Homo sapiens: one gene and its partner. The gene in region 2 interacts genetically with the main gene of each other region. Each region holds a gene or a part of one and is shown on either strand. Other genes may lie near its edges. The genes, in order: ARID1A and FAM120A.

The links.
Region 1: changes in FAM120A (region 2) and ARID1A together harm fitness more than expected from each alone (negative genetic interaction), as found in Homo sapiens cells (one large-scale study listed by BioGRID).

What each region holds. Positions count from the first base shown.
Region 1 is NC_000001.11:26,702,432-26,706,247, reverse strand, and holds part of ARID1A (AT-rich interactive domain-containing protein 1A), read right to left. Parts: intron 1-3,816. UniProt on the Homo sapiens protein: Involved in transcriptional activation and repression of select genes by chromatin remodeling (alteration of DNA-nucleosome topology).
Region 2 is NC_000009.12:93,513,886-93,517,701, forward strand, and holds part of FAM120A (constitutive coactivator of PPAR-gamma-like protein 1), read left to right. Parts: intron 1-1,781; coding exon 1,782-1,882; intron 1,883-2,097; coding exon 2,098-2,384; intron 2,385-3,816. UniProt on the Homo sapiens protein: Component of the oxidative stress-induced survival signaling. May regulate the activation of SRC family protein kinases. May act as a scaffolding protein enabling SRC family protein kinases to phosphorylate and activate PI3-kinase.

The DNA of each region.
Region 1 (3,816 bases), on a different chromosome or scaffold from region 2:
AAGGGAGGAGGAAGTCTAATATCTAACTTTGCAGACTTGGGAACATAAAAGCAACAAAGCCATAAGGAAGCCCAAATGCAAAAGAGAGAAAAAAAGGCACATGGCACATTTCCTCTTCATATGGGTAGCAATTCAAGCAGCGCTTTGGGCCTGCAGAGCACTTAGCTCAGTACCCAAAGCCCCTTAGTATTTATATCAACATAACTTCCTGGAGGGTGACAAAAATCTGTCCTGGATTACTGGGTGATTTCTAATATGTACCATGACCAACACTAAGTCAACATTTTAGGGATCAAATTTCCTACTCTGCAGCATGTTGGAATGCATTCTTGGCATTAGACTTCTTCCCATTCCAGTCCACCCTTAGAAAATGCAGAAGCCACTGGGAAATAGACTCAACCTGTCCCAAGATAATATTCCAGCTATGCACAAGTGACTAACAAAAACAAACAGAAGTTCATTCAGATGTCCCTTCACATTCAGTAAAAAACTAATTTCATCCATTTAAATGGAGAGGAGGGGTAATTTCAGGAAGAATACTCAAGGCTACTAAGTCAATATTCACCCGAACTTGGATTCCTCTAAAACCTGGGAATGATCAGAGTTCAAGCCCCTAAACACCTGTAATCCATAGGAGGTTAACTATGGTGCCCAATTCTGAGTAACTGAAAACCCACTTTTGCAAAATGCCAAAATGGCAAGGCAAAAAAAGTGGAAAAGGTATTTCTAAACCAGAATGTTTATCCAAGACTCCAGTACTTTCAGCAGGTCATGGACCATTACTTGAGGGGGGGGGAAAAAAAAAAAAGGCTGGGCGTGGTGGCTCACACCTGTAATTCCAGCACTTTGGAAGGCCAAGGTGGGTGGATCACACCCGAGGTTGGGAGTTCAAGACCAGCCTGGCCAACATGATGAAACCCCACCTCTACTAAAAATACAAAAATTAGCCGGGCATGGTGGTGGAAGCCTATAATCCCAGCTACTCAGGAGGCTGAGGCATGAGAATCGCTTGAACCTGGGAGGCAGAGGTTGCAATGAGCCAGATTGCACCACTGTACTCCAGTCTGGGTGACAAAGTAAGACTCCATCTCAAAAAAAAAAAAAGGTCTGCAGTACTTCTGTACTGGAGCAGTGTAACCAATCCTTCTCCAGGTAGAAGCATTACAGTGGCCTGGCACTGGACATGCCATGCATCTTCAGCTGTTAAGCATCCACTGATGATCCTTGACCGGTGAAGTGCCAAGGCCCAACCACAGATCGACCAGCAGGTAAAGAAACCAAAATCACTATATTCCAGAGGCTCCACAAGGATTAAGCATTGGTGAGCAGCATTTGTTAGCTGCTTGGCCATAGTAACCTAATAAAAAACAAATTTTTTTTTTTTTTTTGAGACAAGGTCTTGGCTCCATTGCCCAGGCTGGAGTGCACTGGCGTAATCATGGCTTACAACAGCCTCAACCTCCTGGGCTCAAGCAATCCTCCTGCCTCAGCTTTCTAAGTAAACTGCGACTACAGGCACGTACCACCACATCCAGCAATTTTTGTGTCTTGTAAAGATGGGGTCTCCCTATGTTAATAGCCTGGTCCCAAGGCTGGTCCTGGGCTTGGGCAATCCTCCCACCTTGGCCTCCCAAAGTGCTGGGATTATAGGTGTGAGCTACCGCGCCCGGCCAAAAACAGTATTAAAGGCCATTTCTATGAATAAATGGGCAGACTGCATATGTGCAGGCTTACCTAACCCATCAACCTCAATATAAGGTCTAACACAAGCAACTTGACTTGAACACAGCTCCCAGCTCCTCAGAAATAGCAGCCTAAGAGTCCCAACAGATACTTACTTCGTGGCTCTTGTTTTAAGAAAGGTCAACTAACTCTGCCAAGACAGACTCACCAACAAAGTTGAACCACCATTACTACAGAGCTGTCCAGGGCACACAACTCTGAAGGTGACATGACCTTCCAAATCCAAATTTACTAGAAAAGTGCCCCTGAACTAGCCAAGAACTTAACAGTCTGTACCAAAGGCTCTACCTGACCACAAGAACCACTAAGACCCTGGAACCACTCTTTCAGGGAGTTTTATGGTTAGAGTCCAAATTCTCAAAGTCATTGGAACACTGAGACAGCTACTGGTCTGGAGATGGATGTGCAATGTGGATTCTATCAAGCCCATGGAACTTAAGAATAGCATTATGAAAAGGCAAATTAGTATTCTAAGTTTCTTGAACATTTAGCTTCACAAAAAAAGCCTCTGAAAAGCTGTCCCAGGTTAACCCTGCCAAACTGATTGAACCTTTTCCTCTAATTCCTTCAGCTCACATAATTAGTGTGGTCTACATCCATTTATGAAACCTTGCTTTTCAAGTTTTCCAGATGTGTGCACATAAGCATGCTTTCCTAAGAAAACTAAATGCCTCTGAAGGAGATATTGTTTCTACCTTTTAAATCTCTTCCTAGTACCTAGCTGGTGTAATCACATAGGGCTATTTCCCATCCCCATTGGAATTTCCTGATCTCTCTGACTTAGAAACTATGCTCTCAGCAATAAGTCTGAAGTTCCTAATACCCTCACTACCAACATACTGGGAAAGGACCATGCAATATTAAGCAACCTATGTCAGTGCCAATCCAAGTTTTTGTGTTTTGTATTAAAACAAGCTGATAGCCTTTGGTAGTAAGTTAGCTGAACCTAAAAATCATAGTCAGGACCATAATTACATTCATATTCCCTGCTACTATATAAACAGCTAAGTCAAAAGGGCACTTCCAGGACTCTGGTGTAAAAAACACTTCTTATAAAGAAAACTGGTGTCAGAATCAATGAATCTAGTTAAAAAAGACATTCTGAGAAGGCAAATCTGGTCATCTCACAAGGCTACCAAAGAAGAGGACCACAGACAGACAGCTAAAATATTCATAGATTCTTCTTCTTCTTCCATAAAAAGAATGTGTCACTGAAGGAACCCAGATATGTTTTTAATCCTAAAATGGCAATTTCAAAAACAAAGACTGTATCTACTCACATAATCCTTCAAGTAAGATGTAGTGAGTCCCCAAATATTTGGACTTTGTACTGACCCAGGAACAGAGTGTAAAGGCATATTAATTTTATCATAAGTGATACACAGAAGTCCAGTAAAAACTGTATAAATAAACCCAGGCCATTGGGTAGTGGACTTATAATCCCCAGCACAACAGCAAAATTGAGGATAAAGATCACACTCAAGTTGCAGTATCTTTTTTCTCCTTTCTAATATTCCAGAAATGCAAACCCAAGCCAAAAATAATCTCACCAAGCTACCCTTTAAACCTCAAAGTCTCATAAGCCAAGTGTCTGGGGTAATACTTACCTTACTATTGACAGTCAGGATCTTCTTTCCAAACTTCTATTTTCACTATGAAACTGCAATTGACTTTAACAGGATACCACATGCCCTGAACTTAGCACGCAGCCAGGGCCACAGAGGTTTCACTACCAGGGCAGCATCTTTCCATTTCAATTTTTTTTTAGATCACTTCTTATCTCCACACTCACTGCCCCCCAGCACTACCCTTTTCCTATCCCCAAGTCTTTTTCCCCAATGTTATTTTACTCCACCACATGAGGAGGCTAGCATTATCTTTGCTTGAAAACTGTTTATTAATTTGCCTGTCAAACATTCTATAGAACAGTTTACATCTTACTACAGAAACCTCCTGGGTACATATTGACAGCTCAGCAAGTATTTACACAAAGCTCTGAAACATTTGGTTCCTTCAGAGACGATAGAAGATGCTGTGTCAAGCACAGAATTATCAAACACTGTTCCCTCTACC
Region 2 (3,816 bases):
ACGAGAGTGAAGGTTTGGGGAATGTTTCTGTCCTTACCTATATTGGCAGTAGGCAGTGTGAGAGGTGGTGGTTCTTGGGTTGTGTTCCCCTTGCCTGGTGTTTTCCTCTGATTTCATACTGCTATAAAGAACTGCCTGAGACTGGATAATTTATGAAGGAAAGAGGTTTAATTGACTCACAGTTCAGCATGGCTGGGGAGGCCTCAGGAAACTTAGCATCATGGCAGAAGTTGAAGGGGAAGCAAGGCACCTTCTTAACAAGGCAGCGGTAAGAAGTGTCGAGTGAAGGGGGAAGAGCCCCTTATACAACCATCAGATCTTGTGAGAACTCATTCACTATCATTAGAAGAACATGGGAGAAACTGCCCCTATGATCCAATTACCTCCACCTAGTCTCTCTGCCTAGACACGTGGGGATTATGGGGATTATAATTCAAGATGAGATTTGGGTGGGGATGTGCAGCCTAACCATATCAACTGGTGTTCAGATGAAGAGGTTGTAGAAGCATATCTACTGCTTAAAGAGGGAAATTGGAGTCAGCAAGCTCTGGGCTTGGTTTTCTTCCACATTTAAAACAAACCCAAGGAAGAGATGGTGCAGCCGTGCAAGCCCCTGGTGGATCTGTTGTGTCTCACACAGGTTTTCTATTTTCTCTGTGTCTTCAGCAGTGTGCATCTTACTTAAACCGCCTCAGGGCTCCTTTCATCCCCAGGCCCAGTCCTCAGCTTGACACATCATAGGCCCTCAGCACCTAAGTGTTCTGAGAGGGAGTGCAGCTCCTAGAGGTCCATGTCCCATGTCCTCCTGCTTCCTGCATATCATTTGGGCCCCAGTCGGTCCTTGTTACTGCGGGTCTTGTGCTGTCTCTGGAACAGCCCTTTATGGGCACCATCTACTCACTCATTCACTTCTGTTGGCTGACGTGGCCCCTGAGCTCTCTTCCTGTGCTTAGTTAGGCCGCGCGAGGCCAGAGGTTGAGTGGGGAGGCTTCCAGCCCCTGCCTTCTGTCCCAGCTTCAGGCTGGCCTGGTTCCATGTCCTGCTGTCCTGCTTCAGCCATTCCTCTATGTGGCTTTCAGTCCTCTCACAGATTTCTTCATTTTTGCAAGGTAGCGTGGGAATGATGACTAGCACATGGCAGCACACATCAGGCAGGTTTATGAAATTATGTTTTAAGAGAACACAGAATCACAAATTACTCATCCTGTATATGTGTTAAAATGTGTAACCTAATTGCTGAACAATGAAAAGCAATTCCTTTTATATTTAAAAACTCACTAGTTAGCTGAGAACCTAATGGTAGTTGCAATGTACTTTAAATAGAAAAGTCCTCTTGCTTGACAAAGGTAAAGGAAACTGTTCGGTCCGACTTTGTTCCTTTCATGCCTGCCAGGGCTTCTGGTTTCACGGAGACCTCAGGCTAGGAGCAGCCCTGAGCAGGGAGACTGAGTTACAGAGAATCCCCACCAAGTTGCAGGCAGAGGGACAGCCGAGGCCCTCAGGAAGTACACGAGAGCAGAACCACTATGGCAAGTTCACTGAGAAATCTGGAAAGTTAGAATCCCAGCCCGAGTCCATCAAATGGAGCATCATAAAATTAAGTTTTCCTTACTGTGAAATGGCAATTTGTAATGATTTCTGAGAAGTGGGACCCATGGTGGTGTCGATGTCTGAGCCAGGTGAGGGTGAGATCCCTGGCGCCATGGGCTGGCCCCCAGGATGCCCTGGAAAACGCATTCTGTTCACAGCTGTGTGATTCTTTTCTTTCTGTGTTGGTGAAGCAGCCAGACCCGGTCCGTTTGGAATGCCTGGGATGGTGCCGCCGCATGTTCCTCCTCAGATGCTCAACATTCCGCAGACCTCTCTGCAAGCAAAGCCCGTGGTAAGGCCTTCCCTGCGTTGGGTCGGGTGGCGGGTCTCAGACAGGGTGCGTGCATTGAATTTCAACGAATGCTAAAATAAGTTCCTAACCTCTTGAATTGATACGTGAAATAGATGCCAGTGTTTGTTGAAATAAAAATGAGCCAGGAAACGTCAGCCTGGGCCTGAGTCGGGTCCTGCTGGCCACGTGTGCGTGACCTGTGCCCTTCGCTTCAGGCCCCACAGGTGCCCAGCCCAGGGGGCGCCCCGGGCCAGGGTCCATACCCGTACAGCCTCTCTGAGCCAGCACCTCTCACTTTGGACACGAGCGGGAAGAATCTGACGGAGCAGAACAGCTACAGCAACATTCCTCACGAAGGGAAGCACACGCCGCTGTATGAGCGGTCCTCGCCCATCAACCCGGCCCAGAGCGGCAGCCCCAACCACGTGGATTCCGCCTACTTCCCTGGCTCTTCTACATCGTCATCTTCCGACAACGACGAGGGCAGCGGAGGGGCGACAAAGTGAGTGGTGCGTGGGTCGCTGGGTGCTTCCTGGCGGGTAGTGACCTGGGGAAGCTGCCTTCTGGCCTGCCAGCCCAGCTGGTGTTTTGCTCAGAGATGTAGTTTATTGCAGGTGGGTGATGGTCAGTCTGTACTCAGATGGGGGCTCCTTGGACAGAGAGGAGAGAGGAAGAGTAGGTATGTTCTTGAAGTTTCCATGATTTAAAATCTGCACTATCCCAGCCCCATGGCCTGGAGCCACAGGAAACTTTCTGGGGAGGAATTTGACAAGAACTGGTTTGTGTGATGACCAAAACATGGGGGCATTTGTCCGGTGTGGTGCCACTCACACCCGTCACAGCAACCCCCTGCCGACCCCCGAAACATTAATCTTCTGGCTCCTGGATCAAGGGAGCTCTGAATTTCCTCTCCTTCTCCTAAACTCAGCAGGTTACAGGACACTTTGGAAATAACACTGTTTGCCCAAGCAAAACCCTAGAAAGCTGCCTAGACCCAGGCTGGAATTGTTTCCTTAGAGGAGTATTTTAAACACTGTGTGTCCCTGAATAAATGGGTTCACAAATACATAGTTGGTTAAAATTTGATCGAGGAAATCTTTAATTTGCACTCCTCCCTTTCTTTAAATTGTCTTATGTTTAAAACAAAAAAAACAGGGAAAGAATATTTCTTTTCTTTAAGTCAGTGTCTCCTTTTCCTTGGTGTGAACTCTACTTTACAGCGCAGATAACCAGGGCTGGTTGATGTTACATCTGTTTCTGATGTAGGAAATGTAAGAGACATAGGTGTCAGCTTCCATGCCAGTTCTTACCTTGTGTGTCACCTGAAGCAGGTGATCTTTTCCTCTCTGTCCTCTGTCCATCTGTGAAATGGGAATAAATGTCTGTTGACCCAGGGCAGAGCTTACTGAAGGACTCTCTGCCATCCAGGGATGCATACCCTGTTTATAGCAGAGAAGTATAACATTAATAAATGTTGATTTGTTGTATGTGCAGAGAAGTATAAAATTAATAAATGTTTATTTGCTGTATATGCAATGCCAAGACTCTAAAATGAAGTAAAGAGTTGCAATTGAATATTCAAATTTTTAAATTAACCTCTAGCAAGATAATATATTGAGTACCCATTGAATCAGAATCTCTGGTTGGGGCCCCCAAATTTGCATTTTAAATAAGCACCTCAGTCAGTCTTTAGCACACTGAAGTTTGAGAACAACTGCTTGATGGTCTTGGAAGCCCTTATGTGCCAGATTTCTAAGGCATGTGCATTTTGTTGTAAAACGTGACTCATGTCAGCAAGGTCCAAGTGTCTGTACAATACAGTTTTTGTCTTAGTAAGAAATGTTCTTTCTAAACTGTGAAACATAGGTAAGAAGTAAGACAAAAAGCAAAAGAAGTAAGCTTTATGACCCCAACAAGAGTTCCATGCTAGTGAT